Linked DNA regions of Homo sapiens: region 1 is linked to region 2. Evidence: fine-mapped expression QTL. Tissue or cell type: skeletal muscle. Region 2 holds a variant in brackets; the other region holds the start of a gene. All regions are shown on one strand. Distances are from middle to middle.

The links.
Region 1: PBX3 starts here. The variant in region 2 is fine-mapped to the expression of PBX3 in skeletal muscle (GTEx, PIP 0.97).

What each region holds. Positions count from the first base shown.
Region 1 is chr9:125,739,072-125,754,479 of GRCh38, reverse strand. It overlaps PBX3 (PBX homeobox 3), which reads right to left and starts at 7,107. Exons shown (of 9, transcript NM_006195.6): 1 at 6,827-7,107; 2 at 5,857-5,930. The coding sequence starts at 7,026. PBX3-DT (PBX3 divergent transcript) reads left to right here and starts at 8,551. Exons shown (of 2, transcript NR_122032.1): 1 at 8,551-9,064; 2 at 10,543-10,726. RefSeq lists silencers at 6,133-6,472, 6,743-7,272, 7,283-7,332, 7,583-8,012.
Region 2 is chr9:125,812,835-125,828,242 of GRCh38, reverse strand. All of the region lies in intron 2 of PBX3 (PBX homeobox 3), which reads right to left. Among named protein-coding and RNA genes, the nearest start is that of PBX3, 73 kb to the right of the region's middle. RefSeq lists an enhancer at 7,030-7,079. The variant T/C (reference allele first, on the strand shown) is at 7,931.

The DNA.
Region 1 (15,408 bases), 74 kb after region 2:
TAACTTCAATAACTTTGTAAAAAATCAGATAGCTAGTTCTGAAAAACTTTTACCAATTTATACTACATAGTGATATAAATTATTTACTCTCTTCATACTTGAAGACTCAAATGGCCTACTGAAGTAGAGCAAATGCTTGAAAAGGTCAACACGGGCTTGAGGGGGAGGTGGTGGTAATGTGTAAGCTTTGTTAGTCAGTTAATACCTAAATCATGCTGATCACACTGATAAATGGCTAAAACACAAGACTGCTGAGAAAACAAAACATTATTCTCATAATGTCAATATTGAACTAATAAATATCTAAAGATGTTCACAAACACGAATAGGGAAAAGATAATCTAAAACCTTATATAACTTGATGTGTTAGTGCTGATGTGTTAAGCATTTATTCTAAATAGATACCTCAGGGTAGAGTACAAAATAAAGTGATGACTGACTTAGGGTGTGGTTCACGAAATGCAGTTTCAATTCTTATAGTCCCACTTCATATAATGTAACTTCATCCTATACCATGCCACTATAAAGTATCAAAATATAAATAATCCAACTAATACGTTAATTTAAATTTGCCTCAGAAGTAACCTTTTACAAAATTTATAAATTGAGATGGAAATATACAGGCAAAATTAATTAAAAGGAAAAGCATCATAGTATGAAAAATGTAGACAAGTACATTTTATGAAAGCCGATCAACCAGTGTGCTCTTTGGGGCAAGTCGGGGCCTCCTTTGCTAGTGTATTAAAAGACTTCTAATTCAGAATAAAATTATGTAAATTAATAAAATAACATAGTAAAGTCCCAAATAAAATACCAAAACTATTCAAATCTGTAATAAAATGAGGGTCATTAAAACTAAGGAACAAAAGAATTACTTGCACAGATCAAGTTAGTATTGACAAGAGAGTTCAATACATTTTTATTGGGAAGAAAAAAATAAAGAACAGGATTGGAAAATGTCTCTATATTTTAAAGATAATATCCACATGATACTTTAGATCATGAGGTTCTAAACCAGCTTGGCAATGAGATTTTTCTCCAGGTTTTCTACAAATGTATTATATGTGCTATTTTGTTAGGATGGAAATGGAAGAATAAAGAAGTAGAAAAATCCCTTTCTTTTACAACTTCTCTGAAAACCTCCTACAAAAGCTCCAGTAAGATACCAAATCTATAAAAATAGAAAAAAAAAAAGGTAAAATATTAAGTTAAGAAAAATATATTGATAAAGCAATATAATTTATAACATTTCCAAGATACTCTGACTTTGTATTTTTCCTGTTTAATCACTTAATATTTCCAATATAAGCAGACCTAATGCTTAAAATTGATATGAAACTTAAAACATTAAAGAACCATTAAAATTTGCTTCAAAATAATTTTGGAATGGTGGGAATTACAGAGAAAACACGACTGGCCAAGTATTGCTAATTGCTGAAGATGGGCACTGAGTTCATGGGAGGTTCAAGAGTCTCTGCTCTCTGCATGTTATGTTTCAAAGGTGTCCACAATAAAAAGTTGTTAAAATCTTGAAAATAAGTTCATTAAAACAAAATGTGTTTCATGAAAACACAAAAAGGAATCATGTATGGAACAGTGCATTTGTTTTTAAAACTTGAAACAAAAGATGATAATTATATTGGAAATAGTGCAAGAGCAACTTAAAAGCATATGCAAAATATATAATAACATTTAGACTAATATATAACAATTTTCACCTTTCTTGCTAAATTTTCACTTGAAAAAATTGATTTTTACATATGTAGAATTAAAAGAATCACACAGCACTGTACAAAGAAAAATGTAACAGATTTTTATATTGAAACCTTAAAAAGAGAAGCACACCAAAAAAAGACTCCAAAGAGTCTCTAAACCTGTGGGTTCACAATTAAATAGAGAGGTGTCGAATGACAGTACTGCCTTGTCTCTTTGAAAGCTAGTCACACTTCTAGCAATAAAGATAAAAGGTTTAATCTCACATCATATACTAAATGCACATAAAACCTCACTTGTAAACTATACTCTTGATCTAGTTTTAATATCTAAAATTCTTATGACTCTTTCTAGGGAGGGTTCCTTTAAAAGTAAGGCATTTTTACTAGTCATTTTCTTCTCCTTAAACATAAAAAATACTTCAACCAGCCCAACCAACCAAGCAGGCCTTTCTCTTCCCCTGCGGACACCTCCTGCAGTAGAGAAGTTCATTAAGTTTTATGATCTTCCCAAGTCAGTCCTACTTATAAGCCTCACAAAGGCTACAAATCTGGCAAACCATCATGTATGCCATTAGACATTACTAGTAAATGAACGCTATTTAGGGTTTGTGGTGGCAATAAATCAGAGTTTGGTTGGCAGCCATCAACATGGAGTATTTTAACCTATTATTTGAAAAGGAAAAGGTTGTGTTTATTTTTTTTCATGCATAACATTTTTCACAATAATGTGATTCATATTATCTACTAAAATGTGGGATTTCATTTAAAAAATAAATATTTTTTTCTTGAAAAAGAACTATTTCCTTCACTTAAACTCGCACAATTAAGGGCTTTGGAAAGAAGACAAGATTTTTCAGGATGAAATATTTCACAAAGGAAAGCACTTCAACAATTAAGATTAAGATGACCAAAAAGAGGTGGGGGCATACACCAAAAGAGGTATGCAGGTGAGCAGACCTTGTGGCATCAGGGATATTTAATAAGAGACAGATGATAAAATATGGCTTTAAAAATCAGGAGAAAAATCTTAACATATCAACAATAATCTCACTGGTTACTTGGTTTAAAATAAACAACTATTTTTATTTTAAAGCCTACAACTTTTTGGGTGCTCTCAAAATGCACAAATATCACAATTCAACAATGAGAGACATTTCTGCCCAAAAATAATGGTATGATCAATTTTACGAAAGAATATATTCTCAAGAAAAAGCAGCATCTTATAGTAGAAGTATACTTTCCTTACCTCTCAACAAGAAAATAATATAATTGTAGTAGATTACCCATTTATCTGTCAGAAGGGAAAAATACCTTTTCATATATGGTAGAGGGGGAAACAGATGTTTTCTAAACTAAATCCCCCATGTGCATAAGAACTGGCAGTGTTCACTGCCTGATCAGAAACCTCAAAATCCACTGGCAGAGCTACAAATAAACAGATTTTTTTTAAAATGATTTTGTTTTGTTTTAGAAGAAAAGCACAACTGAAATGACATTATCCACTGAAATGACAGTTCACCCTCAACCCCCTTCATTAAGCAGAATAGAGTCATCAACATAATGTTTCTGGTTTCTATTCATAAATGACTAGGTAAACTTTCTCTAAATTACAAAGAATTAATTTTTAGGTATTATTAGATTAAATAAAATGATTTTTAAAAAATATTTATGCAATATACATATATTCTACAATGTTTCTTTTATAAGTTCATGTTTCTAAAGCATGACCGACTATGGAAGCAGGAGTGGGGGGGCTTGGAATTTGCAGCCCCGCTTTCTTTGCTTTGGTAACACTAATGTCTACACAGCTGTTTTATTTCGAATTGAGGATTCTGAGTCCCTGTCTCATTCTAAGACTAGTTTTGGAGAGTGAGGTGAAGCTATGGGTAGTAGGGGAGAATGGAAAGAAGAGAAAGAGCTTCACCCCCATCAATCACTCAGTACTTAAATCCCATCCCTCTCGAGCTTAGAGAGGCTAGCAGGAAGATGCCTCTACCCAGACAGCCGCCTTTACTCTTTGTCGGCTGTTGGCTTTTTACAAAAGAGATAACGTGCAAATGTGGATCCACTGGCCAAAGCACAAAAAGAGAATCTAATTTACAAGTTATCACTGAAAGCCCCAGAAACAATTTTAAAACACAAAAATTTCTTTTGTCAGCTGCCTCTTGGTTTTTAAATAGCAATAGCCCTACCAAAGCTCTCTCTGCCAGTAATCCCAGACTTTGAAAAGATTTGTTTCTTTTTCGTAACTCACCTTTGACATGTGGTTGACTATACTTTCCTTTCAGAATGGTGTAACTAAGTCCTGTGCAAATAAGCAACTAAAGGACTTATGCTTCCTAATTGAATTCTGCCTGCTGCTAAATGTCTCAACATGAAAAGCAGTTTGCTGGGTTTAGTTCTCAAGCTAGCTAGGCCAAAACTTTAAAAAGGCAAAAATAAATAAATAAATACAAATAATGAGAAGGGGATGAGAAGCGATAAGTATCCATCCCCTCTCCCTAGTAATATAAGGCTGTATAAAGTCGAATCAATCTTAATATTCACAACATAGTCAATACCCCAGTGCTTGGCTGTCAGCAGAAACTGAAGTGGAGCCCTGATAGCAGGAAAACCCTTGGACACTAAGCATCAGAATTTACTGAGAATTGCATACTTTTAAGCTTCTAAACTAAGAATCTTCAAGACTGAATGCTAGATGTCTTATTTTACAGTCAGATAAAAATTATCTACTGCTTTAAATCAAAACGCTTTCTAAAGGTAGCTAAAAATCAACACAAAATAAAAGTTAGTAATTCAAGAAAGGATCACTGAGCATTAAGAAACCAGCCATAATATGTGAATGAAAACCAGGAAAAGTACTCTTTGGCCTCCCTTATTATTTGCTGCTTATTATGGTTTAGCATATATATTTAATAGACAGCAATAACTCATCATCTTTTCTTGATTACTTTTAGGATCAGAATAGTATTGCAAAGCGAAAAACCTGTTTCAAAGAAGGCTGACTCGCCTATCAACCTAACAATTATTTGCACTGTGCTATTTGTACACTCAATTTAAACACAATCACATGTAACCTTCTAAATAGCCTCCCTTGGATAGTGCTATATCCTGGACTTCAACTTTTTCTCCTTTGCCTCAACTTTCAAAATGGCAACTTTAAAATACCATACATCCAACACACACCAAAAAAAAAAAAAAAAAGAAAGAAAAGAACAGGAAAAAAATAAACAGTAGAGCTTGTTTAATGTACTTGTTTGCCACATACAGGGAAGATAATGCCAAATACAAACTAAAACATCCAAATCTCTGCTTCAGTTTGAGCAGTTACCTCACGTCAAGACTGAAAGACCTTCAATTAATAAAGTCTGACAAGAAAGTTAAACTGAAACGAATTGCCAAAAATTTGCCAAATATGTACCTGTAGTTTTCATTCCAGCACTTCTGCAAAACCTATCTTCTTATATATTCCCTGACTTGGACACTTCAAAATTGTTTAACCTGCATCTGTAGACCTTTTTATACTTTATATATTAAGCACAGTTACAAGTGTAATGACTTCAGAATACAAAATAATACAAGTATTAACAGATGTAATACATCGTATGTGTCTACACATCATTACCCTTCCTCGATTCTCTAAAGTAGCCTTCCCACCTAAAACACTAATTCAAGCATGCTACTGGGGTCTGTTCAATTGCATCTATTCTTCTATCCGTGCAGCTGAAGCTTAAGACTGTCTAAGTAAAACAAAGTTCGGGCGATGCTTCTCCCGGGGACTCGGTCCTGGCATCCAGTCTCCCGTTGCTCCTTTTAAAAACTGACACACAAACAAGGCGAAAGGAGAGGGAAGAGGGCGGCTGGCGCTCCGGGCCCCCTCCCCGCCTGCAGCCAGGGGCGGCCGCCGAGGGACGGCGATCCAGCCCGGTCCGCACCTACACTTCATTTTACACCAGGAGCAGAACTGAGAAATTGACTCCAGATTTATTGCAGTTTTTTCTCAAGATCAGGACGTGGGAAGGAGAGAATGATCAAAGATGGCGGTGCCCAAAAGCAGCAGCTCTCAACTGGAGAGTCGAAGGAGTAGCTCCGACCCCCACCTCGGGGGTCTCCAGGCCCACTGCGGGGCGCAGCGTCTTACCTGTTTTCTCTTTGATCTCACACAGGACGCTGAAGAGCGCTGGTTTCATTCTGTGACAGTTCAGGGCATGTTTCCTAAAAAACAAATAACGAAACACAAAGGTATTAGCATCACCTATGGAATAATATGGCGCCTTCCTTTAAGTTAGACCCAAGATTTAATTCCAGCCCCCCATTCTGGAAGGCCCTTTTGAACCGTGGGAAGTCAACAAAAACTCCAGTTGACTAGTTCCCGACAGCCAGCAAGCCCCGGCGGCGAAAGCTGCAGCCGGAACAAGGCGGACCCATCTGCCCGGCAGGCAGCAGCCTCGGCCACTGCAGACGCGACGCGAACCCGCGCGGGGAGCCTCGCCCCGGGGGCAGGCGAAGGCGACCCGGGGGAGGGGACGGGTGCGGAGGGGCTCCCGCGTCCGCTCCTGTGCAGAGGAGGCCGGCCGACTGCGGCCAGCGGGAGGGTGACAGCTCGGCAAAGTTTGCAAGGCGGCCCTCCCTCTCCGAGAACTTGGCCGTCCGCACCCGGACCCGCCAGGGAACCGCCCATCGCCCCGCGCCGGGCCCGGGTGGCCGCCCGCATCGCGAGGTCGTCCCGCGGCCGCGGGAGCCGGCGCCGGGACTCCCCGCCGGAGGAGAAAGTTACACTTCCCGGCGGCGCGGCCCGCACGGGGTCGGGGCGGGAGGTTTAAATCCCTGGGAGGGGGCCGGGCTGCGAGGGGCAGGACGGGGGAAAGGACGCCACGGAATCCGCGCCGCACCGAGTCCGTCCCGAGCCCCCCAGAGCAACTTTGCCGACTCCCGCCCGCTTCGGGGGGCGCGGGCAAGTCCCCCCGAGGCCGGGGCGGGCGGCCGGCTTTCGGAGAAAGTTCCCCGCCGGGGGCTGCGGCCCTAGCCCCGGGCGCCACCCCGGGCCTCGACTCGGCCGCGGGCCCGGCTCCCGCACACACACAAAAGATGCTTAATGAGACGACACCAACTTTGCTTGCGCCTCGTCCAAGCTCTGGTCGGTGATGGTCATGATCTGGTGGAGGATGTCGCCGATGTCCTGCTTCCTGCCGTCGCCGTCCGCCCCTTCGTGGCCGTGCGGGGGAGGCGGCAGGGCCATGCCCCCCTGCACCGAGTGGCCAGCCAGGTTCACCCCGGCCAGAGTCTGCAGCATCCTGGATTGATCGTCCATCCCGCCGCGCGCGGGCGGGAGCGGGCGGCGGCTGAGGCGAAGGCTGAGGCGGCGGCGGCGGCGGCGGCGACGAGGGAGGAGAAGAAAGAGGGGGAGGGGGAGGGGGAGGCGGCCGCGCGCTCCCCGCCCGCGCGGGGAGGGGGCGGCCCGGCCGGCAGGGCCCGCGGCTGAGGCGATGAGGACGGGCGCCCGGCTCCGGCTTCCGCCGCCGCCGAGGCTGAGGAGAAGCGGCGGGCGGAAGCGCCGGGCTCCGCGGCGGTGGCGGAGGCGGAGGCGGCGGCGCCCGCTGCCCTCACGCGGCCGCCGCGCCGCCTCCTCGCCGCCGCGCGCCCCGCCGGGCGGCCCCGCGCAACTTGCTCCTCAGCGCCCGCCGAGTTGCCGGGACGCCCGCCGCCCCCCGCGCCAGCCTGCGCACTGCCCTCCTCGGCCGCCGCCGCCGCCTCGGCCAGGCGGGATCCGAGCCCCGGCGGCCCCGGGGGAGGCAGCGGCGGCGGCGGCGGGCGGCGGCGGAGGAGGAGGCCTGCGGGCGGGCCGCGGGGAGCGAGGGGGGGCGGAGGAGGAAAGTTTGGGAGCGGGCGGGCAGAGGCGGCGGGGGCGCTGAGCCCGGAGGAGGGCCCCGGCGGGCCGCGCGCCGGGCGGACAGCCGATGGATAGGGCGGGAGAAGTCGCCGCCGCCGCCGCCGGAGCCGCGCACCCAGCCAGCAGCCGCCGCGGACCGGGCTGGAAGGCCGCTGGGCCGAGGGATTGACAGGCTGCCAGTGCCACTCACTCACTGCGGCCCCGCGCCGGGGGGAGGGACGGGGGCTGGCAAGGGCGGGGGAGCGCTCCTCAGACCCCGCCCCCGGGGCGGTGCGCGCGCTCATTGGGCTCTGCGCCTCCCGCCGCCGCCGCCGGCACCGCCCCCGGGGCCCGGCCCGTTCCCTCTGGCCTCTGATACTCCGCGCTCCGGAGTGTGCCGCCGGATCCTCGCTCCAACCTCGTCGCGTCCTAGCCCCCCGGGATAGACCGGGCCGGCCCACAAACGGTGTGCCCGCACCCCGACTCCTGCTCCATGCTTTTGGCAGTCATGGGAGCGGGGGGTTGTGTATGGGACAGTGGGCAACTCGCTGCAAAGCCAACCGTGTGCTCCCCCGCCGCGCCCGTGAGCTTCACGCCTCGGACAGCTCCTGGTGCACTTTCCCGCTCTTCCTGTCAGGAGGTGGTGCCCTCTGGGTACCAGGCCGCTCGTCCCGGGCCAATCGCAAAGCGCTTAGAGCCGAATGGGGCGGGACAGAGGCAAGAAAGGGTCGTCCCAATTGGAGCGTTCGAAAGGTTCTGGGCAGAGGCGGGGAAGCGGCGAGTGGGGGCCTCGCCCCGCCTGCGGTCGCCATGGTAACCGAGAGGGCGCAGCTCAGCGTTGGCGCCAGCACCGGGGTCTTGTGCTGTCCCTCAATGGGTGACCAGTTAAGGTGGGAACCTGTGGTCTCACATACTTGAAGTCTGAGCTGAGTGGACCTGACTGCCATAGACTTTCCATTGAAAGGGGAAATGTGTCAGAGAGAAGCGAGTCTGGGAGGAGGGAAAGTGCCTTCAGTCCAGGACTAATTTCAAGGTTTACAACACTTTACACACTCTGCAACTCCTGATAATCCAGGGACTACTCCTTTGGCAGCGTTTGCTATTCGATGCCTCCAGATGTACTGAAGCTGCAAAAACGAGCTCTTCATTACAAAGATACGTTTGTTTAGGAAGAGACTGGATTTCACTTGTCAACTTACCCCATCACCACGAGTCATTTAATGTTGGTAACGCCAGCCACGATTTTTCGTATCTATAACACCCCTTCTTCCATTGAATTCTACCTACAAATAACTGAAGGCTCACATTATTTTGGAATATGGACCTCCGCCTCTTGTGGAGACTTGAGATTGCTCTTAAGCTGATTTCCCAAACAGGGGCTGCAATGTGTGTTCCCGATTTTAGATTCATTGAGCTCACCCTAGATGAGTCCTTTGGTTCGGTGGTTCGGAAAAGTCTCTTTGTTCCTTCTCCAAACTCAGTAAGCTGTCTTACCTGAAACCAAAAATAGGGGTATGAGGATATGAAAAATGGCTCTTACTCTGCAGGGTTTAATGTAGGACAAGCAGTTCTTTAAATGCCAGATGGATTCTTGGAATGAAGCAGGCTACTCGGTTCCAGGTTCTTTCCTTCATATGTTGTGTGTACTTTTAAATACTCCCCACTGCAAAGCTAATAGCTAAGCTTACAGTTAGGCAAGCTAAAATCCTTACAAACTGCACAGCTGCTGAGGAGGGAGTTCCAAAAAATCCACTCTGCTTACTTACCTCCAAAGAAGAACCCCCTTCATGTTCATTAATATTCTCTGCTCTTCTATACCCCATTGATATGTCAAGTTTCCAATTCTTCTTTGAAGCCCCCATTATGGGTTACTTATAATCGTCATTGATTGGGTTTTTTCTTTATTCTTAATTTGTTTTTTAAAGCTGTCACCAAATTCTTAAGCATTTTTGCCAAAAGGCGCAGGAGCAAGCGGTCAACCTTTCATAATTCTCCAACGCTGAGGATGCAAAACCACAGAATTCTAACTGAAAGATGCCTTAAATTCTAAGATTCCTTCCAGCTGTAAAATTCAATAATCCTGTGACTCACTATTAGGACTCCTCTCTGCCCTCCTTCTAGACTCATAATCTTGACTAATCAGTCATGAGGATGAGGCTAATTAGCAATGGGGATTTATGGTTATTTCTAGCCCACTCCGAACAATGAGTTATGTAAGCAAAGCAACATATATAAAAATGTAAATAGGCCGGTGGCTCATGCCTGTAATCTCAGAACTTTGGGAGGCCGAGGCAGGTGGATCACAAGGTCAGGAGTTGAGACCAGCCTGGCCAACATGGTGAAACCCCATCTCTACTAAAAATACAAAAAATTAGCTGGGCTTGGTGGCAGGCGCCTGTAATCCCAGCTACTCAGGAGGCTGAGGCAGGAGAATCACTTGTACCCAGGAGGTGGAGGTTGCGGTGAACTGAGATTGTGCCACTCCCCTCCAGCCTGGGCGACAGAGTGAGACTTCTTTTCAAAAAAAAAAAAAAAAAGTAAATAAAGAAACACTTAAGCAAATAAAGGCAATTGGGAACTATGGGCTGTGTAAACACACTGGAACATAAAAACATAAATTAGAATTAAGAAAACAGTTAGGCAAATGCCAGCAATTAGGAATAAAACAACTTGTTAAATGTCTAACACCCACAGTTATTTTATGGTACACTCCTCTACACCCATGGTCATTCAGTGATGTGGAAACTTGATACCATAATTCTGCCTTAAGTGATTGAATTAGACTGACCTTCTGCTTGGGAGGCTTCTCTTTTTGTTGTTATCAGTATGAGTTGCAGTAGAAGCCTGAGGACCCTAGCAAGGATTCCTTCACAGGCTCATTGACAACTGCCGTTGATTTAAAGCATAACTTTTTTAGACTGGTTTCCAAGCCTCAATATAACTGTCAACTAATTGCAGATGTTCCAGGATCTCTTGGTGCTCGTGCCAGTGTCTCATGTAGAATGTTGCGTGATCTCTGCTCAAGAATCTGAGTCACAAGGTTGATGCCTTCACAGATGACAGAACAGAAGTTCCCTGAGTACCCGAGTCTGTCTTTGCTGTTTCTAAGGTAGTGATTATTAAAATGTCAAGGGAAATGAAATTGACTTTTGGTGAGCAGACATTCATGTAAAGTTAACAGTGACAAAGTGGTGAAAACCAAGCAGATGTTCCTTCATGGCCATCCCTTTCCATGAGTTTATATTAACATCACCATTGCCTCTGTCATCAATAGGGTGACTATCACAGCAGATGCCATTATTGAGCACTTTCTTTGGGGGTACACTATCCTCTGTGTTCCCTTGCTTCATCTTATTACAGTCTCACAACAGCCTGCTTGGGATTGTTATTAAATAAGAAATAGAATGAGAGAGAGTAAGAAATTTCCACAAGACCACAAAGCCAGTAAGTACTAGAGCTTGAATTCAAATATTGATCTATGTGGCTGCAAAGACTACCGTATAAAACACTGTGCAAAAAAGTAATTTAGCCAGGCTGGTGACATGCAACTGTAGTTCCAGCTACTTTAGAGGCAGAAACAGGAGAATCACTTGAGTGCAGTAGTTTGAGGCTGCAGTATGCTATGATCACACTTGTGAATAGCCACTGCACTCTAGCTTGAGCAAAGTAGTGCTACCATTTCTCCTAAAATTTTTTTAAAAGTTATTTAAGATTATGAAGTAAAAATCACAAGACCTTAACAGATAAACTGAAAAATTAATGAAAATAAGTAACTAGGTGCTTAATAAAGAGAGAATAAACAGCTATATTAGAGGAATCCAGGTCTCAAGGCAGGGGAGGAGGGAAATTAAGGACAGTCAGACCATTCTTCAAAGCCACATTGGGTCCCACCTCTCCGAAGCTTTTCTGTGATGCCTGTCTTCTCTGATCTTTGTCTCCTCTAAACTCCCTCAGAAGATTGCAGTGAGATCGCCTCATTACACTCCAGCCTGGGCAACAGAGTGAGACTCTGTCTCATAAATAAATAAATAAATAAATAAATAAATAAATAAACTCCCTCAGTATATGTTGCCTGTAATACATAACCTACTACCATACTAGATAGTCTTGCACTGTTTGTTCTCCATCCACCTCTGTTAGTTTCCTCATCTAGGTCATAAAAATGTCAAGGGCAAGGTGTCGTAAGATGTGACTATAATATGACAGATTTGATTTTTTTTTAAATCATAGACATCTAAGAAAAGGTAACACTCTCCAACTTGTCACTTTGGGGAAACTGACTAAATGCTTCTTTTCAAAATGTATCATTGCTCCATTGCTTTAGGAATGACTATCTATTTGTTTATTTGTTTGTTCATTGATTTGTTTCTCTAGAGAGTGGGACTTGCTCTGTCACCCAGGCTGGAGTACAGTGGCGCGATCATAGCTCACTGTAACTTTGAATTCCTGGGCAATCCTCCTGCCTCAGGGCTCCTGAGTAGCTGAGACTGCAGGTGCACACCACTACACCCAGCTAATTTTTTGTATTTTTTTTGTATGGATGAGGTCTCGCTATGGTGCTCAGGCTGCGTTCAAACTCCTGGCCTCAAGGGATCATCCCACCTCAGCATCTCGAAGTACTGGGATTACAGGCATGAGCCACTGCACCCAGACAGGAATGACTCTTTAGAATTGGTCTTTACAGTTGATAGCACATGTGACATATGACCAACGTTTATCTTCTAAGGATGGATTTGATTGAGTTACCAAAGATTTAGTGGGATAACAGTCCATCCTTCTAAAGTGATGCCTTTAAAAGAGAATATTTATCAGAATGTATAATTTCTAGAAAAATTTGGTAGAATGCTCCCTCTCTTATGTCCCTTCATAGCACCCAGTACGGTGCAGTTTCATACAGAATAGACAGTTGGGGCCGACATGACCAGTTGTTGGCCTGCCATCCATTGGCTTACTTCCTTCTACACCAATAGAAGCCTGATTTTATTCTGAAGACAATGTGCTCAGTCCCAATCAAGGTCTAAAACAAGTATGAGCATCCTGTCCCCTGCCTTCTGAGCCTGTCAGGAGGAGGGGTGACCTTGCTAATTTTTTAAAAAAGGGACAGATAGGCCAGGCGTGCTGGCTCATGCCTGTAATCCCAGCAATTTGGCCACTGCACTCCAGCCTGGGCAAAGAACGAGACCCTGTCTCAGAAAAAGAAAAAAAAGGGGACAGACATGGCTCTTCTCTCCTTCATTTTCCTGGCTCTTTCCATCTTTGAAAGTAGTCCTGAATCTGGAGTGCTCATAGCAGCCACCTGTGATAGTGAAATGAAAATATGAAGACAAAATCAACATGGTTTGGTGGTTTATATCTGTGGTCTTCCTCCCAAAGCTTGTAATCCCAGACCAATAATTAGAAAAATATTACACAAATACTAATTGAAGGACATTCTACAAAATACCTGGCCAGTAATTTCTCTGGTCTTTGTACTCCTTGTAACTGTCAAGGTCATAAAGAGTAAGAAAAGTTGAAAAACTGTCACAACCAAGAAGAGCCTAAGGAGAAATGAGGACTGGATGTAATCTAGCATTCTGGATGGGATCCTGGAACAGAAAAGGGATATTAGGTAAAAACTATGGAAATTTGGCCAGGCGCGGTGGCTCACGCCTGTAATCTCAGCACTTTGGGAGGCCGAGACAGGCGGATCATGAGGTCAGGAGATCGAGACCATCCTGGCTAATACAGTGAAACCCCGTCTCTACTAAAAAAATTTTTTAAAAAAATTAGCCGGGCGTGGTGGCTGGCGCCTGTAGTCCCAGCTACTCGGGAGGCTGAGGCAGGAGAATGGCGTGAACCCAGAAGGCAGAGCTTGCAGTGAGCCCAGATGGCGCCGCTGCACTCCAGCCTGGGCAACAGAGCGAGACTCCGTCTCAAGAAAAAAAAAAAAAACTATGGAAATTTGAATAAAGTATACACTTCAGTTAGTGATAACATTTCACATTGGTTCATTAATTTCAAAAAGTACCATATTAATGTGAGATGTTAATAATAGAGGAAATAGTGTATGGGATATTAGGGAACTCTCTGTACCACCTTCTAAATTTTTTTTTCTTTTTTTTTTTTTTTTGAGACGGAGTCTCGCTCTGTCGCCCAGGCTGGAGTGCAGTGGCGCAATCTCGGCTCACTGCAAGCTCCACCTCCTGGATCCACGCCATTCTCCTGCCTCAGCCTCCGGAGTAGCTGGGACTACAGGCACCCACCACCACGCCTGGCTAATTTTTTGTATTTTCAGTAGAGGTAGGGTTTCACCGTGTTAGCCAGGATGGTCTCGATCTCCTGACCTCATGATCCACCCACCTCGGCCTCCCAAAGTGCTGGGATTACAGGCATGAGCCACCGCATCCGGCCCCACCACCTTCTAATTTTTATCTGTAAATACTTTAAAAAAAAACATTCAGGGCCAGGAGCGGTGGCTCACGCCTGTAATCCCAGCACTTTGGGAGGCTGAGGCGGGTGAATCACGAGGTCAGGAGATCGAGACCATCCTGGCTAACACGGTGAAACCCCGTCTCTACTAAAAATACAAAAAAATTAGCCAGGCATGGTGGCAGCCGGCTGTAGTCCCAGCTACTCGGGAGGCTGAGGCAGGAGAATGACGTCGACCTGGGAGGTGGAGCTTGCAGTGAGCCGAGACTGAGCCACTGCACTCCAGCCTGGGTGACAGAGCGAGACTCTGTCTCAAAAAAAAAAAAAATAAGTAAATAAAATAAAACATTCATTCAAAACAAAAATAAACATGGTAAGTGGGGTAGAAAGATAAGGAGAGCCTAGGTGTCTGCAGACATGGTCCAACATCTGAGCCAAAGAAGCAACTGCTTTCCCTTGGATTTCTAGTTTTGTGAGTAAATTCATCTCCTGTTTTAAAATCCTATTGGCTGGGTTTTCTGTATCTTGCAGAAAAGCTGATATAGCACTATAAACACTTATATGACAGATGTATGTGTGGATGGATGGATGGATGGATGGATGGATGGATGGATGGACTGATGGATGGATGGATGGAATAGCCTAGCACAATGCCCGACACATAGTAGGAGCTCCTAGAGTGGGGGAGATGATGTATGATAAAAAAAAAAATTCCTCTCGTCTTTGTATTGGATTCCTGGGAGGTAACATCTAAAACCCTTGAAATCTCCCAAGCTATAAGAGTGTTTTTATTATTCATGAGGCCCTTAGATCACATCTAATTTTATGCTAAAGTGATGACTCAGGATGGTGGCTGGTCACCAGAAAGACCAACCATGTGATTAGAGTGTTGGGGCTTTGAGGGAGCTGGAGATTGAGTTCAGTCATAAGGCCAATGATTCAATCAATCATGTCTATATAATGAAACTCCGATAAAAACTCTGGACACCCAAGCCCAGAAAAGCTTCCTGGTTGGTGAATACATTGATGTGCCAGGAGGGTGATACACCCTGACACCATGGGGAAAAGCATGGAAGCTCTGCATTCAGGACCCTCCCAGCTCTTGCCCTTGACCTCTCTACTTGACTGGCCCTGGTTTATATCCCTTATAATTAAACTATAATGCTGAGTATAGTGCTTTCCTAAGTTCTGTGTCATTCTAGCAAATTATAGAACCTAAAGGGGTCACAGGAACACCCACATTTTCAGCCAGTTGGTTAGAAGTACAGGTGGCCAGGGGACCTCAGAACTTGTGGCTGGCATCTGAAGTGAAAGCAGTCTAGTTGGGCACCATGCCTTTAACTGGGATTAATTGACTGTCATTTCTAAGAGGCCTACTTAAAGGAACCTAATTTAATTGAGACAAATTCCTTTTGC
Region 2 (15,408 bases):
TCTCAGATCTGATAGGTCAAAAGCAAAATTATTACCCAATGAAAATGTGATGAAAATGTATTTAACTGAATGACTTCTGTGTTTATCTTGTTGGTTTACTAATAATTCAAAGTAAATCCTCTGGACAGCAAACTAGTACTCCTAAAAATACAAAATACACATCATTATATCCAGCAAAAGTCCAAACCTAAGGACTACTAATATCTGTATCCAGCAAATAAGGACACAGAAGACTAAGGTCCTAGATGAATTTAGTTTCTGATCCTTCCAAAATGCGTAGTTCCAGAACAAACCTCTGTATCAGTCTTATTACTGGTAGCAATATAAATTGGTACAACCACTTTGGAAAGCAATTTGGCAACATCAGATAAAGTTGGATATACACATACTCTATAAACCCAACAACTCTATTCCTAGTTATATACCTCAGAGGAATTCTTGCATATGGACAAAAATATGTGTACAAGCATGTTTATAATACCAAAATTTCAGATGAAATGTAAGCATCCATCAGTAGTGAAATGAATGTGAAGTTCATCTGCACGGTAGAATACTACAAAGCAGGTAAAACTAATAAAATCAATTCACGGATATCAAAATCAATGCAGTACATGTTGAAAACTGGTGAGCAAAAAATCAAGCTACAAAAAGATGTACAGTGTGTATATACGACACATAGGTATTACATATGTGTATATATACACATTATATTTGTCAATACTAAAAATACTAACATTATTTGTAAATACACGTATGTGTAGTAAAAGCATTTTTCACATGAGAAGAATATGTACCAACCATAAGATAAATAGGTACTAATTTGGGGTGGGGAAGTTAGTGAGCTGAACGGATGGGGAAACTTCAAACATATGTAAATGGATATTTTTTAAAAATAAATGTCTAAAGCAGAGATGGCAAAATGTTAACATTTATTAAACTTAACAGGAAGAAATAAAAGGCTATGTGTTTGAAATATTTCATAAGCAAAAATCAAAATGCAAAAAGTCCATATACCCTACATGGGTCTTTACTTCAGAATTACCACTAATAATTCATTCAAATACATTCATTGATATACTGCATAATTTTATTGGGTTAAAAGTTATGTCCCAATTTCACGTTCTCATTTATATGTGGGAGCCAAAAAAGTTGATCACACAGAGGTAGAGAATAGAGTGACAGACACCACAGACTGGGAGGGGTGTGGGTGGGAGGTGTGGATAAAGAGGGATTGGTTAATGGGTACAAACATACAGTTAGATTAAAAGTATAATTTCTAATGTTTGATAGCAGGGTAGAGTGACTACAGTTAGCAAGAATGTGTGGTATATTTCAAAGTAGCTAGAAGAAAGAACTTGAAATGTTACCAAACACAGAGAAATAATAAATACTTAAGGTGATGGATACCTTAAATACTCTGACTTGATCATTACACATTCTATGCATGCAACAAAATATCACATGTACACCATAAATATAGAAAATATTATGTGTCAATTAAAAAATATGTCCATAATTAAGGGTCAGAGCAATCCACTCTTCTGAATAAAGTCATCACACAATAAGTTGAACCATCTAAATACTTAGTACTGACATTACCTTTATTATATTTTTCAAATATTTAATATATCTTATGCATATATTTTCAAAGAAAAAAAGTGTGTGTCATCACCCAATAAGCTGAACTGTCTAAATACTTAGTAGTGACATTACCATATTATGTTTATGAAATATATCTTATGTATTCATTAGATATATTTTCAAAGGAAAAAATCCCATAATCACCAATGACCCTTCATTAATTTGTGAATATTCCAGACAAGCTAGAGTCGACAAGACTTATATTATCTGATTTTCAATTCTGTTTGAACTTCACATAAAAACATTTTGAAGAGAAAGGAAGGTTATTACTATATCATTTGTGACAAATAATCAAGATATGAGAATAGTAAATAAATTATTTGAATTTAAAGTTAGGAAGCACTTCTTTTTCAAAGAATCCTATATGTAAAATAATTGAGCCATGAAAAATGTTAAAACAGGTAAAAATCATGCCTCAAAAGAACCTGGTAAGATTGTGGTAAATAAAGGAATTTACTAGGCGAGAATCTCTATTCACTACAGGCAATTTTAGCTGTTTTCTCCTGGAATTAAATGTTCTATCCTAACTTCTGGAACTAGTTAAATATTAACGTTATTGCCTTTCTCAAAGATAATGGTAGAATTTAACTGGTTGAAAACTGCCACCCACAGCTAACATTTATAAAGTATCTCCCAATGCAAAATTAAACAGACTTCCTTCCAGGACATTCTAGGCAAGTTCCCAAATAAGATTCCTAAACTAAACAAAGCTACTACATTAAACTTGGCGATATCACAATCATGAATTGATCCTCTAAATGCCAAAATTGAGAGTAAAAAAGAAAAATGGACACTTGTTAGCAATACAGGATAGCAGAAGTACACAGTGATGCTTACTGATGAAATGAGGATACTTTCTAAATCAGTGGTTTTCAAACTGTGGCCCAGGTACCCGTGGGGTCACTGAGGTACCCTCAGGGCTCTGCAAGGTCAAAACTGTTTTCATAATTCATTAAGATGTCACATTTTCTGTTTTAACTCTAATTTGTTCATGAGTATACAATGAAGTTGACAACAGGCTACGTGAAGCATGGCATCACAACAGAATGCAGAAGGAAATATGAGAAAACAGCTGTTGAAGCCAGACATTAAAGAATTTGTTAAAAAAAAAAAAAAGTAAAACAATATCAATCATCTAATTTTTTATTTTGGAAATATAAGTTGTTTTTTATTTTAAAATGATACTTATGCTAACGTGTTATTGTTATTTTAAAATAAACTAATAAAATTTTTAAATTTCTAATACAGTAAATACTAATAAATATAACCCACATAAGCCAAAGCTTGCTAGGTTCTCAATAATTGTTTTTTTTTGCGGGGGACAGAGTCTCACTTTGTTGCCCAGTCTGGAGTGCAGTAGCACAATCTCAGCTCACTGCAACCTCCACCTCCCAGGTTCAAGCTATCCTCCCACCTCAGCCTCCTGAATAGCTAGGAAAATAGGTGCATGCCACCACGCCCAGCCAATTATTGTATTTCTTGTAGAGATAAGGTTTCGCCATGTTATCCAGGCTGGTCTCGAACTCCTGAGCTCAAGTGATCCACTGCCTCAGCCTCCCAAAGTGCTGAGATTTCAGGCGTGAGCCACTATGCCTGGCAATTCTCAATTATTTTTAATTTTAAATGTGGTATGGAAAGAGATCCTGAAAACAAAAAGTCCGAGAATCAGTGGCCTAAATCATAGAGTTGATACAAGGATTAAATGAACTAATGCATGTAAAGCACTTTTCACAACGCATGGCAAACAGTCAACGTTCAGTCAATGGTAGCTATCGTTATTGTTACATAACAACAGCTGCGGCTACAGATAGCAATGCTGAGATCAGCCATTTCTGGAGACTTTGTTGTCCCCCACTGTCTAGTAAGCAATGAGTATTTAAAAAAAAAAAAAAGCCAACTGATTCATCAAATGTAATTCATCATATAGATTCTAATTTAAATTCTAATACAATCAATAAGAACCTGTTAGTCTGAAAGACTGTATCTTTCTAGACCCTGTTAACTTCCTTATAAACTAGGAAGGCCTAGGACTAGACTTACAATATACCTTGGAGACTAGAGTTATCTTGTCCTTTGAGACACCTGGAAAACAGCAATGAGAAGCCTAAGTGTCCTGTGCACAACAAATTAATTAAATATGCATTCTCATAATAAAGAAAGGTATACTTTCCTTTGAAATACTGGATCAATAAGGCATCATGGAATAACGGAACTGTGGACAGGCCCTTGAGCATGCTTCTGGTTAAGATTCTTCATTCCAGGCATATCTAGCACACACCCAAGACAGATCAACAGGTACAGAGACTCACAAACGGACCAGTCATTTTTCACTCTAGTGGTTACGTAGCCCCTCTACAAATCAAACCACAATCTTTCTTACTTTCACTTTCAGGACACTTCCTTATGTTTCATCCTTTATTGATAAAGCTAAAAATAATAATAGTAGTTGTATACAGAGGTCAAACACCTGGCATCAAGCTCATAAAAATCCTTTAACCCTTTAGCCTACATTTTTTTTTTTTTTTTGAGACAAAGTCTTGCTCTGTCACCCAGGCTGGAGTGCAGTGGCACGATCTCAGCTCACTGCGACCTCTGACTCCCAGGTTCAAGCAATTCTCCTGCCTCAGCCTCCTGAGTGGCTGGGACTACAGGTGCGGGCCACCATGCCTGGCTAATTTTTGCATTTTTGGTAGAGATGGGGTTTCACCATGTTGGCCAAGCTGGTCTCGAACTCCTGACCTCAAGTCATTCACCCACCTCAGCCTCCCAAAGTGCTGGGATTACAGACATGAGCCACCGCGCCCAGCCTAGCCTACTTTTCTCTAGTCAAAACACGTTCCAAATCTTTTAACTGTTTCCCATTGGATCTGTACTTCCTTCTCTTAACCATTCTTTTCTGTCTTCTAAACCCCAAGATAAAAACATACAGAATTCTTTTTTAATCTTTCTTTCTTTCTTTTTTTAAAAAAGGAGACTGATCCAAAGTAGCTAACACAGAAATTTCATTGAGGCACTAACAGACTATTTAGCCTTTAAAACTTTATTTAACACTATTACCAAAAAAAAAAGTAATTTATCCTCCTTAAAAAGGACCATATTAACATTATATATGTTAAATTCAGTCTTTTAAAAACTATCTTTGTATCTTGAAATCAGCATTAAGATGAAAGCAAGAGATATTACTGTTGCTATGGTAATACTTCAATGAACAGCATAACACACACTGGTACATAAAAACCATTTTCTGAGCAGCATGTACAGGTAAATAAAAGTTAAATAGCACATCAACAACAATTTCCTCACAGGGTCATGACAACTTTTATTTGTGATGCTTATTTTTATATATTACAGTGACTGAAGTAAATTTGAAAATGTCAATAATCAACAGCAATGGTCAGCATTTGCAGAGGGAACCAGAGAATGTTCGTTTCTCCACTTTTCCCACAACTGTATTTTGGAGTTTCAAGAACCACAGAAGCGTCATCAAATATGACCATACCACAAACTTACACATACAAGAGGCATACTTGCTAAATAGGCAAACATAGGTGAGTTAGGAGAATTAATGAATGGTGGGAGGTTCTGACAAAGTAAAACTCACATCTTTTTTTTTTTTTTAGCTACTTAGCAAACAAAACAAAAAAACTAAAAAACCCCACAAGTTATATAACTATTGATATGGATGATCCATAAAATCCCAAAATTCAACTACTCATTATGGGGTGTTTCACAAGTATGAAGTACTGAATTAAGGTTGAGGGTATCATAATGTATTATGTGGGGTTTTAAATAATAACTCAATATAATAAGCTACTATACTGAGATACCCTGTATTAATGTACAAAAAACATTAATGAAATATATGCTTTGATTGGATTATGCAGCCTTTCTTCTACATTCAAATTACAATCCAAGTTGAACTCAAAGACAAGTTTCCTTTTAAAACATTTCTCTAAACTAGTGGAAAAAAATGTTTATAAAAATAGTGTAGTCTGAGTCTGAATAAACGGTATGCTCAGGGAAATTTCAGGTTTCAACGTAAAGAAATATACACATTTTAGAGTTTCTAAAGAAAGAGTATTATTTACAATGAAAAACCACATCTAAGGAAGAAACGTTTTTAAACTCTGGAGAACAGGGAAAAAAAGAAGAGTACCTCCTTTAAAAATAATTTTCAGTCATCAGTAAAGATCTTTCCCAGATCTTGTGTACAAGAGGAAAACCACTGCCATGGCTACGTGTAAGAGCATTCCTTATCCCCAATGCCAAATGGGCAATAGAACAGACAAAGTCCATTCTTTTAAAGCTATATGCTGTATATGCTGAGGTTAAAAATATTTACACAAAATTTTATAAAGAAGAAACAATATATTTGAGTCATAAAAATAAGTTAGCTCTCTGCCACCATTTACTACCCACCTTTAAATATTAAATTTTAATTTTACTTATTTAGGAAAAATTACATAATTCTTCATAGCACAGTTTAAAAATAACTCCACTATTAATGCAGGCCCTTTATTTAATCACAGGCTAATTTACTCCTGACAGAAAGTAAATTCCACTATTTTCTGTGAGGCTTTATGAAATTGCCATCATTTTTAATTAATTCTTAATTAAAATATATTACACCACAGCTTCTACCCATCTCTCTTGATATTCTAACATAATCAATTCAAGACCATTTACATATCATTAATTAAAAGCCTTCCTCTCTCATCCTTAAAATCATAATGAGGCTCTATTTCTCATTAGCAGCCTTTAAGGGGTAAAACAACAATACAGTCAAGAATGAATAGTAACTTGAAACAAATAATTTGTACTTTTTAAAACTATATAGTGGACAGAGCTAATTTCAAAATTTCTCAAATTTGAGAATCCTTGAATTATTTCACTGTGTTTCACAGGGGAACCACCAGAGCAACAATTGGTGATAAAATGAAACTAATCTTCAAATGAGTTAAGCAATAAATTCGGTAAGAAATAGTAGCATCTTTGAGATCTGGGAAAACCAAATAGATTTCTTTATTTAGACAATAACAAATCTTACCATGAAATACTACCAACAAGTTAGTTACTACAGAAAAGTAAAAAATAACACAATTAATATGATCTTGTCTTCATTTCCATTTTTAAAAATTAATCCCCTATATTAATCCTTTCCTTTAAAAAAGATTCTTTCTTTCAACTAAAGTCCATTGTTAGTATCTCTTAAATCTTAAGATACAATTAGAAAAATGTAATTGAAATTTATACCTCTATGCGTTTCTTATTAGCTTACCACTGTCAGAATGAAGTCTCTAGTATCTGTGGTTGTATGAAGAACTGAAACAGAGAAGCTCGTATAAAGTTCTATAATTAAACTCCAGAGCTATGATATGTTTTACACATTCTTAAATGAGCTGTAATATATACTGGTACTATAAAAAGTTATCATTTATTGGTAACGAAAAGAAAAAATTAACCACCTAATTCAGTGATTTTACCTCTTCAGGAGGCTTTAAAGGCAAACGCAGCTTGAGAGATTTATAGGAACTCATGACTTTTAACCCACTATTTTCAATATTTTGGCTATAAGTTACAAAATTAATACAACCTAAACTATGATTACATTTATGATTAGTATAAAATAAAATTTCATTGCTTTTCTTTTGCTTTGAGCAACTGTAGTAGTATTGCCTTTTGCAATACTACTTTTAAAAAGACTGAACAAAACATTAATTTGTCACATTTTTCAGAGTTTACAACTCATAATTATATTTCAAGGCCACACTACAAATACAAATAGAAAATAAGTGAGAATCAAAATGTGACCAAAAAAATACTACTACTTAATAGAGGCAAAATAAAGTCAGACTTGCAGCTTGGAAATTTTATGCAGACTTACTGTCACCAGCATTAACTATATCTAGGTGCTTCGTATCAGGCAAATCAGATTTATATCACTGTCTTCTGTCAAATGCAGGTGCTCCACCACAACTTGTCAAGACAGCCTGTCTGAATCTTCACACGTCAGACAGAATCACAGCACTTGGTGTTTTGGTCTGTTGACAGCAATTTATTTTGATGTGTTGTCACAATATGAAATTCTTCAATGCTGTGCACCATGGTGCCAGTAAGTCCCACTATACTTTTTTCTACTGTGAGATGCTACAGGTTTATTAGTGAGGGAGCGAGAACAAAGTTTTGTCTTGCTTTTAAAACCCATTTCATTTAAGCCCTAAACAGTTAATTTTAAAGTGGAGGGGAGTGCTGAATAGAAACAAGCACTGTCATGAGACATTCCTTAATC[T/C]CGGTATCAAGTGTCTTGTTTCACACCACAATCTATTTGGGTGAAGCAAAGCCAACCAGTCTGTTAGGAATAACCAGAGACCTTAAATATCCAGTAAGTCAAAATTCAGAGTAGACTACACTAAGACTAAACTAATAGCTTGGGCTACAGATCCAGTGTGGTCAATTGTTTCTTCATCTTTTTCACAGTGCTTCTTTCAATCCCACAGTAAAAACTTCAATTCAGTGCAGTGCAAACGTTTTCATGCACCCATTTATAGGTACTAGGAGATCCAGGTGAAAGAAACAATGAATAGGAATAGATTTCTTTGGGGTTTTTTAAAATTTCTTTTCCAAAATCTATACAAATTCCATATTAATCCTCCAAGAATGTGAAATAAAATTTACATGGGAAATACAAAAAAGATAACTAATTAAATGTGGCAGAAAAAAAGATAATATTCACAAAAAAGCTCAGAGTTGTTTTCAACTTTTGTAGTATTTTGCTATTTCATATTCTAAGTTTTCGTATTAAAAGATTCTAACTAAAATAAACTTAAAAGTGAAGAGTACAGGGTTACATTGTGTATATATACATAAAACACCAGTTTTATATATATATAAAACACTGGATATATATGTACACTGAAGATATATAAATCTATTCATAAATGAAGCTTTGCCCATATCTATATCTAAACCCTCTTCTTACAAGCAGGGAAGATATCAGTAGTATTTGCACGTTTCCCATTTCCATATAGTTCAGCTGATCTATTATAGCTAGAATTGAATTTTTTTTTCTTTTTTTTGAGATGGAGTTTCACTCTTGTTGCCCAGGCTGGAGTGCAATGGCATGATCTTGACTCACCACAACCTCCGCCTCCCGGGTTCAAGTGATCTCCTGCCTCAACCTTCCGAGTAGCTGGGATTACAGGCATGAACCACCACACCCAGCTAATTTTGTATTTTTAGTAGAGTCAGGGTTTCTCCATGTTGGTCAGGCTGGTCTCACTACCCACCTCAGGTGATCCGCCCACCTAGGCCTCCCAAAGTGCTGGGATTACAGGTGTGAGCCACCCCGCCTGGCCTTGAAAATTTAAAAATAAAAATTAATGTTCCTTTGGAAAATTAAAAAGTAAAAAAATAGTTTTAGATTTGGAATTATACATTAGAAAGTATGAGATTAAAAATAATTATCAGGCCAGGCACAGTGGCCCATACCTGTAATCCCAGCACTTTGGGAGGCCGAGGTGGGTGGATCACTTGAAGCCAGGAGTTCGAGACTAGCCTGGCCAACATGGTGAGACCCCATCTCTACTAAAAACACAAAAATTAGCCAGATTTGGTGGTGCATACCTCTAGTCCCAGCTACTCGGGAGGTTGAGGCAGGTGAATTCCTTGAACCTGGGAGACGGAGGCTGCAGTCAGCCGAGATCACACCACTGCACTCCAGCCTGGGCAACAGAGAAAGACTTCGTCTCAAATAATAATAATAATCATCATCATCATCATCTTCAAAATAATAAAAATAATTCTCATCAAGGCTGAGTGCAGTGGCTCACGCCTGTAATCCTAACACTTTGGGAAGCTGAGGCGGGCAGGTTTTTGAGCCCAGGAGTTCAAGACCAGCCTGGGCAACACAGCAAGACCCTGTTTCTATATATCTTTAAAAAAATAATCTCATCATGCCAGGTGTGGTGGCTCATGCCTGTAATCCCAGCACTTTGGGAGGCCAAGGCAGGCAGATCACTTGGGGTCAGGAGTTTGAGACCAGCTGGTCAACATGGAGAAACTCTGTCTCTACTAAAAATACAAAAAAAATTAAAATAAAAATTAGCCGGGCGTGGTGGCACAGACCCACAATCCCAGCTACTCAGGAGGCTGAGACAGGAGAATCAATTGAACCCAGGAGGCAGAGGCTGTAGTGAGCTGAGATCATGCCACTGCACTCCATCCTGGGTGACAGAGTGAGTGAGACTCCGTCTCAAATTAAAAAAAAAAAAAGTATGGTTATGTATGTAAGGCTCATTTTCAAACTTCATAACTTAAGTAAGAAATGTTTTTATACTTATGAGCAGGAACTCTCTGGTAATACTATATCTGGTTTTGGTTTTTGTTTTTTTTTTGGTTTTTTTGAGACGAAAGGCTTGCTCTGTCACCCAGGCTGGAGTGCAGTGGCACCATCTCAGCTCACTGCAACCTCCGCCTCCCGGGTTCTAGCTATTCTTCTGCCTCAGCCTCCCAGGTTGCTAGGACTACAGGTGTGAGCCACTATGCTAGCTAATTTTGCATTTTCAGTAGAGACAGGATGTCACCATGTTGGCCAGTCTGGTCTCGATCTCCTGACCTCGTGATCCGTCCGCCTCGGCCTCCCAAAGTGCTGGGATTACAGGCGTGAGCCACCGCATCCAGCCAATACTACACCATTTATAATATACTTTGTGAATGGTCCATCATCTACAGCTGGTGCACGCTATACTCACAAGAATTTATCTCCAAGGAATTCCACCGCAATTTTTTAAAAATCTAACAAATCTTTTCTGTGAGGTAAGTGGGTACTAGAGCAGATGGTATTTTTTCGATTTGTAGGACAAAAAAAATAAGATGTAAGACTTTACAGTGAGTTAGAATCAAAGCTGAATGAAAATTCCCAAACTTAAAATTATTTCATTAAATTACATTCTATGAGTTCTTTAGTTAGATTAGTTTAGTGGGGTAGCCATTGTGCACAATTCTAGAATGCACCGTTATCAAAGTGTATTATAAATGATGCAACCTGGAGTTGTGCAACTCAGCAAATATGAATGTAAAGAAAGACTCAATGAAATTAATGTGTGTGTGTGTTTCTTTCAGAATAGGGGACATGTATCTATCGCACAAACCCCAGTGGATTAATCTATAAGCAAAAAAATACATCATCACATAAGTCACAAGTACCTCTAGTCCACCTCCAAGATCTCTAGGAAAATAAGGCTTTGAATAGTGTTGGAATGTGGGATGCAAATACTCTTGAAGAAGATCTCTTATAGGTTTATTTTTACCTAATAAATAAGTATTGGAAGTAAACAACAAATCTGTGTGATTCAATATGTGTTGTATCTAAACTTCATCTCTAATCTACTTTAAAGAAACTAGTCACACTGATAAAACCAAACTACTTATAGGTAGCCTTTACAGACCAGTGCTAACACAGACCAATTCTTTACTCTATTGAGGTTATCAACACAGAATAATTCTTCACTCTAGTTTCATGACTGATTTTGGAAAGACTAAGAAGCAAAAAATGTTGATTAAAAAAATTGTTTCACCTTTTAACAAGGTGAAGATCAGCTACGCATGCACAGATACATTAACTGCAGAAAAAAATGAAACCATATAAGAACTCTGGTGTCTCCAAAAATAGTCAAAAAGGACCAATCATCTGATAATCTAAATGATGAGACATTACAAGAAAAGAAGAGAACTGGTAAAGGATAAAAAGATTAAACTGGGATTCTATGTTAAAGAAGGTATGGCACAAAGACCATGAAACTGCCAAGCAATTTCAGTGTTGAAATGTTCTGTGTATATACACACACACAAACACACACAAAAAAGAGAGACAGACTAAAACTTGAGGACAGACACAACCCTTTCCCCAGTCAAAAGAGTATAATATAAAGAGAACTGAACCCTGAGTTGGAAGATTCGAGCACTAATCTCTATCCCAGTTCTGCAACTTACTCAGGCAAGTGACCATCCGTAAATCCCTTACTTAGCCGCTCTAATCCTCACTTTCCTAATTTGTAAAACAAGAGTAATATACATTCCACCTAAATCAAAGGTTGTTATGAAGATTAAGCAGATAAAATCACTCCGAACAATGTAAAAGCACCATAGAAATATTCAATAACAATTGAAGACAACTAAAAAGCAAGCATCGCTCTGGATCTTCTGGCTCAAGAGAGCAGACTGAGTATGTATGTTTAATTTCCATTCTTCCTTTCCAGTTTCCCTCTGATAGGACTGTAAAGGGTATACCATTGAGAAGGGGGAAGAGCCGGGTGCAGGGGCTCACACCTGTGTTCCCAGCACTCTGGGAGGCCAAGGCACACAGATCACTTGAGCTCAGGAGTTCAAGACCAGCCTGGGCAACATGGCAAAACCCAGTCTCTACAAAAAACAAAAAACAAAAACCAAAATTAGCCAGGCGTGGTGGTCCTCGCCTGAGGCTGAGGTGGGAGAATCACCTGAGCCCGGGCAGTCGGGGCTGCAGTGAGCCATGATCGCACCCCTAAACCGCAGTCTAGGTGACATAGTAAGACACGGTCTCAAAAAACAAAAAGAGAGAGAGAGAGACGGAGGGAGGCAGAGAGAAAGAGTAGGGGGTGGGGCTGAAGAAGACCAGATTTTGATAAATTTCTGTAACACAGATAACAAATGAGACACCACAATGACAAGTGCATCACAGTGAAGGAGGCCCAAATCTACAATGAGAAGGAGGTAGGAGCCGGTTTTCCCAGCAAAGACTGACAGAGGCTCCAACCTTGGACAGAGAACAGCAACAGGAAATGGGGCAGTAAATTAAAAGAAGGTCTGAGTAACACCTGAGAAATTTGGTCCCTCCTCACATTTTCCACACACACACACACACACACACACCCAGTCACTGCAAAGAACATTTGCCCAAAGGAGAAGTCAGACAACCATTCTCCAAAAATAATTAAGAGGTAATATCAAAAGTACAACAGTTAAAGAAGGGAGTACTAATTTCCTCCTGTTTCATATAAAAGTAAAGTAATACAGTCTGATATTGATGGAATCAAAGCTAGAGAACACATTGCTTATGTTATACGAGGAACCTACAGCAGAACAAAAAATAATACAACAACAAAACCAGAGAGGAAGAGAAGGAAATTATGTGGGAGATTATATAAATAAGCCAAATTCCTTACCATGGAAAAATGATATACAGTCAACAATTTCAGTTATTTAAATTTATGGTGGGTAACTAGCAAGAAAACAAAAAAGAGAAAGATGAAATGTGGTCTTCTCTGATGAGTGGGACTATAGGAAGGAGAAGAACAGCAAGAGGTTACAACATTTTTTTCAACTGTGCAAGGAGAGTACTTTTATAATTTAAAATTACCTGCTAACTAGTTGAAAAATATTCTTTTCAAAATGGATTGACCCAGAAAGTTACCCTGAAGGACAGAAAATCTGACTACTTAGTCTGATTTCTTTCAGTCTTTCAAAAAAATAGACATAATTCTTCAGGTTGTGAGGAAAAATTATCTTCCTAAGCATACAAGTAAGGAAAAAGAAATGGAACTGAGAAATAAGGAAGATTTTATCTTTCAGAATTCTGATAAAAGATGAGTTAGAAATGAGAGGCTGTAATTCCCTAATCCTTCAGGCTGAAGAATGGCAATTGGGAATAGTGTTTTCAACCTCAAATTCCTATTCTGGAAGTTGTTAATCGGCTTGAATGGTGGATGGCTTAATTATATAAGGACCACATTAATGTCTCAAAGGAGGGAGAGTGATCTGATAGGTTTTAATTTAAAACACTCTTCATAAAATTAAAAACGAATGCCAAACTGACTATAATCTGTGCCTCTGTGGAGAAGTAAAAGGCCAATACAGCTCTAAGAATACAGCATGATCAATGGTCTTTGAGGCTAAATTGATCCAGTACTGGTCAATAATCATGAATGTTATTCATTGGGCAGTCAAAAGTAGTCTCTCCATTTCTGTTCCAGATAGCAGGTCTTTTTCTAGGTTATTTTCAGATAGTTAGAATTGCATCTATCTGTTAATGGGAAACATTTTCACTATTCACATCCTCTAGAATGACTCTATAGAACTAAAAATCCTGGGATCTAAATGTATATATGTAGCTCACAGCACTTACGGCACTCATCTTAAATAGAACAGTACAGTTTGGAACAATTTGGATCCATTCTGTCTCATTCTACAGTTTTACTGGCATTGTACCATTCCAAAAAAAAAGAGATGGAACAAACAAGTTAAAATCTATACAAAGTTAGAGTTAACAAGGGTAGTAACTTTTCAAAGTATAGAAAAATATAATAACTGCGAGAACACTAGGTCAAATATGAAAGTACCCATCTTTGAAGGGAACATGCAACCTGCTAGCTTTGATCCTAGGATACTTTTTTTTTTTTTTTTTGAGATGGAGTCTCACTCTGTCGCCCAGGCTGGAGTGCAATAGCGTGATCTCTAAGCTCACTGCAACCTCCACCTCCCGAGTTTAAGTGATTCTCCTGCCTCAGCCTCCTGAAAACCTGGGACTACAGGGGCGCACCATGCCCAACTAATTTTTTATTTTTAATAGATACAGGGTTTCACCATGTTGGCCAGGCTGGTCTTGAACTCCTGACCTCAGGTTATCTGCCCATTTTGGCCTCCCAAAGTTTTGGGATTACAGGTATGAGCCACCGTGCCCGGCCGACATACGTGTTTATGTATGTATTTCTCTAGATCTTTTCATTGAGTAGATTCAGAAGCAGTGATACCTAATAGCAATGAGCATAACTTACACTCAAATCTTGTTTTCTCAATGTCATTATCCACTAAAAGGAACCAAGTATACTTAAAGAAACGGTTGATTCCAGGGCTAGGACAAGGCAAAGACAAGATAAGCTGGGAACATCTTATCATACCAGAATATAAGGAACTGCTTGAAGAATAATGGTGACATGTCAAAAAGACACAGATGACAGCCTGAAGGGCTCTCATTGGCCAGAAGGATTGCAAACACAATGGTTCCAACATTAATGAGTTACTGAATCAAATTGTAATCCTCTGGGTGTCTTGTTATATGACATAAAAGATATCTTGATGCGTTTAAATGACTACAGTTGGGGTTTGCATTTACTGTTATACACTGCATAATGATGTTTTGGTCAACCATGGACCACATATACAATGATGGTTTCATAAGATTATAAAGGAGCTAAAAAATTCCTATCACCTACTGATATTTTGATGATCATGACCCTACTTACACATTGGCCTATGCCAATGTGTGTTTGGCTTGGTTTTTAACAAAAAAAAATTAAAAAGTAAAAAAAATTAATAAAAAGGTTATAGAATACGGATATAAAAAAAAATCTGAATGCTCTGTGGTGTAAAGAAAAAATATTTCTGTAAAGCTGTACAATGTGTTTTAAGCTAAGTGTTATTACAAAAGTCAAAAAGTTAAAAATTAAAGTTTATATAGTAAAAAGGTTATAGTAAGCTAAGGGTAACTTATTGAAGAAATAAAAATATTTTTATAAATTTAGTATAGCCTAAGTGTACATCATATATAAAGTGTGCGGTAGTATGCACTAATGTCCTAGGCCTAAACATTCACTCACCACTCACTCACTGAGCAATTTTCAGTCCTACAAGCTCCATTCATGGTAAGTGCCCTATACAGCTATACCATGTTTTATCTCTTACACCATATTGTTACTCTACCTTTTCTATGTTTAGATACACAAATACCACTGT